2 separate regions of the Homo sapiens genome follow, and region 1 is linked to region 2. The links come from fine-mapping of genetic effects on gene expression. A gene starts in region 2. The other region holds a variant in brackets. All regions are shown on one strand. Distances are between the middles of the regions. Region 1 overlaps RFX1 (regulatory factor X1). Region 2 holds the start of IL27RA (interleukin 27 receptor subunit alpha).

What was found.
Region 1: its variant is fine-mapped to the expression of IL27RA in blood mononuclear cells (TOPMed, PIP 0.97).

The regions. Positions count from the first base shown.
Region 1 is chr19:13,991,320-13,993,819 of GRCh38, forward strand. RFX1 (regulatory factor X1) reads right to left here. Exons shown (of 21, transcript NM_002918.5): 2 at 2,206-2,500. Among named protein-coding and RNA genes, the nearest start is that of RFX1, 14 kb to the right of the region's middle. The variant G/A (reference allele first, on the strand shown) is at 1,397.
Region 2 is chr19:14,030,151-14,033,084 of GRCh38, forward strand. It overlaps IL27RA (interleukin 27 receptor subunit alpha), which reads left to right and starts at 1,612. Exons shown (of 14, transcript NM_004843.4): 1 at 1,612-1,822; 2 at 2,236-2,353. The coding sequence starts at 1,723. RLN3 (relaxin 3) reads left to right here. Exons shown (of 2, transcript NM_080864.4): 2 at 560-1,401. The coding sequence ends at 798. RefSeq lists silencers at 1,391-1,520, 1,591-1,640, 1,651-1,770, 1,781-1,830.

The sequences.
Region 1 (2,500 bases), 39 kb before region 2:
TGAAGTTCACTGTTAAGGAAATGCTGCAGGATTTCTGAGGGGTGCTGAGAACCCACCAGAGGTTTGTGGCCTGAAGACCCTGCCCATGACTGCAGCCCGACCTCAACCAGGGCAGGGCTGTGTCTACACAGGCGGGGGGGCACTAAGTGTGGCGCTCATGCGGACACCTCCACTCCGTCCATATAGTAAAGAGTCACTGCCCTGAGTCCCTGCATGTTCCCGCCCCAAACCTCTGCCAGAGACCCTGGACCTCCCACGCAGACACTGCCAGAAGCCTCTGGGACACTGCCCAGGGCTCCAGCCCCATCTGCTTTGTTCCACAACGGGGCCAATTGCTACACTTTTCATTACTTTTTTTTTGAGATGGATTCTCGCTCCGTTACCCAGGCTGGAGCGCAGTGGCACGATCTCAGCTCACTGCAACCTCTGCCTCCGGGTTCAAGTGATTTTTCCTGCCTCAGCTTCCTGAGTAGCTGGCATTACAGGTTCGCGCCACCACGCCCAGCTAATTTTTATATTTTTAGTATAGATGGGGTCTCACCATGTTGGCCAGGCTGGTCTCGAACTCCTGACCTCAAGTGATCCACCTGCCTCGGCCTCCCAAAGTGCTGGGGTTATAGGTGTGAGCCACCACACCCGGCCAATTGCTACATGTTTTGATGACTCTTTATGACCTGATGGTCCCCAATCCCATCTTGACCCACCCCTTCCACAGCCCCTCAGGATGCCCTGATGATCTCACCCCTTCCATTCCCACTCTGAGAAGGACCAGGGCCAGCTTTGATCCGGGCTCCCACTGAGGCCTCCGTCCACCACAGAGCACATTAAAAACACACTAGCTGTGCACAGTGGCAGGCGCCTGTAGTCCCAGCTACCTACAAGGCTGAGGCAGGAGAATCACTTGAGCCCAGGAGTTCGAGGTCAGTCTGGACAGCATAGCAAGACCCCATCTCTAAACCAAAAAAACACACGAATCTAGCCTAATGCCCAGGCTGTGCTGCCATTCCCACCAGAGCACTGAGTCAGTCGAGACAGAGACCCAGCCCTCAGGCAGACCCTAAACCAGTCAAAACATCGTCACTATGTTTACTGTGGGAAATGCTCAGAGGGCAACAGGTCTGTCCAAGATGGCCTGCTCTCAACACAGGTCCTGCGTGCCTTAGCTTATGTCATGAGAAAGAAAAGCAAAAATAAAGAAAAGGGCCAGTCCCTGGATCCTGCCCAAAACAACAGGGCGGCTGCTCTAGGAAGGGGAGGTGACATGTCCAGGCCCTCACCCCCAGCTGACCTCCCTGAAGTGCCCACTCAAGGCCATCCTGGCTATGAGACCCTCGCATGCGTCCCCTGAGAGAGAGGAGCTATGATGATCCCATCACAAATGAGGAAACCAGAGCAG[G/A]GAGGCCAAAAGACTGGTGTGTAGCCAGGCCAGGCCTCTGTCTCCCACAGGTGCATGCAAACTTTGATGCCACTGCCCAAACCCTTCTTCCAGTGACATCTTATTTGCAAAGAGAGGTCAGAACAGCTCTAAGAGGCTGAGCATGGTGACTCATGCCTGTATTCCCAGCACTTTGGGAGGCTATGGCAGGAGGATCGCTTGAGTCCAGGAGTTTGAGACCAGCCTAGGCAATATGGCGAGACCTCATCTCTACAAAAAATACAAAAAAACAAAAAAATTAGCTGGGCACAGCTGCACACCTGTGGTCTCAGCAACTCAGGAGACCGAGGTGGGAGGATCATTTGAGGCCGGGAGGATCATTTGAGGCCAGGAGTTTGAGACCTGCCTGAGCAACATGGGAAGATCCCATAGCTACAAAAAATTTTAAAAATTAGCCAGGCATGGTGGTGGGCACCTGTGGTCTCAGCTACTTGGGAGGCTGAGGTGGAAGGATTGCTTGAGCCTGGAGGGTTGAGGCTGCTGTGAGCTGTGATTGTGCCACTGCACTCCAGCCTGGGCAACAGAATGAGACTCTGTCTCAAAAAATAAAATAAAACCAAAAAAAGAAGCTCTAAGAGCTGCTCTGGTGGGAAGGAGTTTGGGGGGACAGAGGCCTCCTTGCATGGCTTAAGCACCCCTGCCCTAGTGATACCCCAAGTCCCATCCAGAAACCTTGGGGGGCATGGCAGCCCTGTGCCTTCACACCCAGGGTCTAGGCTATCTGAACAACTCTGAGAGGAGTTTTCAGGACACACGAGCGCGGCACTTACCAGAGACAGTGACCACGATGTACTGCTGGGGTGCAGGCGAAGGGGTGGGTGCACCGGTTGGCTGCGAGGGTGCGGGTACAGCCGGGAGCTCCGTCACGTACTGCTTCTGGCCACCCGGTGGCTGTGCCTGGGGCTGGGGGCTCTGCAGCTCGGTGACATATTGGGGCTGAGGGGTGGCAGCAGCGGTGGGTGGCTGCGGGGGCTGGGGTGCCGCTGGGGGTGGTGGCGGTGGCGGCTGGGGCTGGGCTTGTGGCGGGGCCTGTGGCGGCTGGGATGGTGGCGGGGCTGCCTGTAG
Region 2 (2,934 bases):
TTCCAGACATTGTTCTAAGTTTTTTTTTTTAATGAATATTAACTCCTTATAAAACTTGAGAAGGTTGGAGTAATTATTTTTTTCCACTTTGCAGAAAAGAACATTGAGGCTCCAAGAAGTAAATTTACTTGCTCACGATTAGAGAAGCTGGATTCATGCTCAGTCAGCCCAGCTCCCAAATGTACCAGGTCCTCAATTAATAAAGAGTAAGGAGAAATAAATGACAGGGCTGGGTGCGGTGGCTCACGCCTGTAATCCCAGCACTTTGGGTGGCTGAGGTGGGCACATCACTTGAGGTCAGGAGTTTGCGACCAGCCTGAACAACATGGTGAACCCCATCTCTATAACAATACAAAAATCAGCCAGGCCTGCTGGCAGACACCTGTAATCCCACCTACTCTGGCAGAGCCAGAATTTGAACCCAGGACTGGGTGGAATAAAAACTCTGAACTATGTCTATGACTGTTGTCACAAGATCAGAGCTAGACTGGCCAGGAGCCATGACTGTGGGTGCAGCAGCAGCTGAGCCCTGATCACTAACTCTGTTCATCTTTTGCAGGAGATACCTTCCCGGATGCAGATGCTGATGAAGACAGTCTGGCAGGCGAGCTGGATGAGGCCATGGGGTCCAGCGAGTGGCTGGCCCTGACCAAGTCACCCCAGGCCTTTTACAGGGGGCGACCCAGCTGGCAAGGAACCCCTGGGGTTCTTCGGGGCAGCCGAGATGTCCTGGCTGGCCTTTCCAGCAGCTGCTGCAAGTGGGGGTGTAGCAAAAGTGAAATCAGTAGCCTTTGCTAGTTTGAGGGCTGGGCAGCCGTGGGCACCAGGACCAATGCCCCAGTCCTGCCATCCACTCAACTAGTGTCTGGCTGGGCACCTGTCTTTCGAGCCTCACACATTCATTCATTCATCTACAAGTCACAGAGGCACTGTGGGCTCAGGCACAGTCTCCCGACACCACCTATCCAACCCTGCCCTTTGACCAGCCTATCATGACCCTGGCCCCTAAGGAAGCTGTGCCCCTGCCTGGTCAAGTGGGGACCCCCCCATCCTGACCCCTGACCTCTCCCCAGCCCTAACCATGCGTTTGCCTGGCCTACACACTCCACTGCCACAACTGGGTCCCTACTCTACCTAGGCTGGCCACACAGAGACCCCTGCCCCCTTCCCAGTCCAAACTGTGGCCATTGTCCCCTGACCAGCTAAAATCAAGCCTCTGTCTCAGTCCAGCCTTTGCACGCACGCTTCCTTTGCCCTGCTTTCCATCCCCTCTCCCTCCAACTCCCCTGCCAGAGTTCCAAGGCTGTGGACCCCAGAGAAGGTGGCAGGTGGCCCCCCTAGGAGAGCTCTGGGCACATTCGAATCTTCCCAAACTCCAATAATAAAAATTCGAAGACTTTGGCAGAGAGTGTGTGTGTGTGTGTATGGTTGTTGGGCGTAGGACAGGTTTCGGGGATGCGCGGTACGCGGTACCACCCCTCGGAGGCCCCCACCCCCAGACGCCCAGGCCGCCTCCCCACTCCCCCTCAAGCAGCCCCAGCCGGGGACTTTCCGTCGCGGGGAAGGGGCGGGGACCCTGAGCGAAAGGTGCGGAGGCGGCCTGCCGGGGTGGTTCGGCTTCCCGTTGCCGCCTCGGGCGCTGTACCCAGAGCTCGAAGAGGAGCAGCGCGGCCGCGCGGACCCGGCAAGGCTGGGCCGGACTCGGGGCTCCCGAGGGACGCCATGCGGGGAGGCAGGGGCGCCCCTTTCTGGCTGTGGCCGCTGCCCAAGCTGGCGCTGCTGCCTCTGTTGTGGGTGCTTTTCCAGCGGACGCGTCCCCAGGGTGAGTGCTGGAGGGAGCTCGTGTCCCGGGCGCTGCCGCTGCGCTCCCCGCGAAGGCGCCAGTGCTCCAGGATAAGCCACGCGTATGCAGAGCGAACGGTAGAGGTGCAGGCGCCACTCGGCTCCTCCCGGGGCAGGGACCCGGCGACACTGGGGAATGGGCGGCAGCGAGGTCGAACCGGAGCCCCGGGGCGGGGTGGGGGAGCTCTCTGGGTGGTTAACAGGATGTGGCGAGCACAGGGAAAGGGGGGGTTTGCACGGAGCCCGGGCAGGGGTGCCTAGCGCCTCCCTTCCTGCTGCTCATTTCCCTAAGCCCCCCCACCTTGCAATTGTCAGAAGTCCAAGTTCTGGGGTGTGCAGGCGGAAGGGGGGGATTCGACCCCCTTTCCTGAGACCCTCTGACTCCCTCTCCAGGCAGCGCCGGGCCACTGCAGTGCTACGGAGTTGGACCCTTGGGCGACTTGAACTGCTCGTGGGAGCCTCTTGGGGACCTGGGAGCCCCCTCCGAGTTACACCTCCAGAGCCAAAAGTAGTGAGTACAGGGAGGTGACGTGGGGAAACAGGCTTTGGAGGTGGCCGCTCAGGCCCCAGGCTGCTTTGGTTGAAAGGTTCCAGGAGTCAAGCCTGGCCAACATGGTGAAACCCTGTCTATACTAAAAATACAAAAAAAAAAAAAAAAAAAAAATTACCCAGGGGTGGTGGCGCGCGCCTGTAGTCCCTGATACTCAGGAGGCTGAGACAGGAGAATCGCTTGAACCCGGGAGGCGGAGGTTGCAGTAAGCCCAGATCTCGCCACTGCACTCCAGCCTGGGGGACAGAGGGAGACTCTGTCTCAAAAAAAAAAAAAAAAAAAAAGAAAAGAAAAGAAAAGAAAGTCCCAGGAGTCTGCCCCCCTCCCCCAATACTCCTCCACTCCTTCAATTCTAGCTTCCCTCGTTTCTTTGCTGTGTCACCCTGGGCAAGTCACTTTCCCTCTTTGAGTCTCCTTTTCATTTCTCTATTAAATAGCAATCATAGGGCCAGGAGAGGTGGTTTGCACCTGTCATCCCAGCATTTTGGGAGGCCGAGGCGGGAGGATCGCTTGAGCCCAGGAGGAGTTCAGAGTTTTAGAGA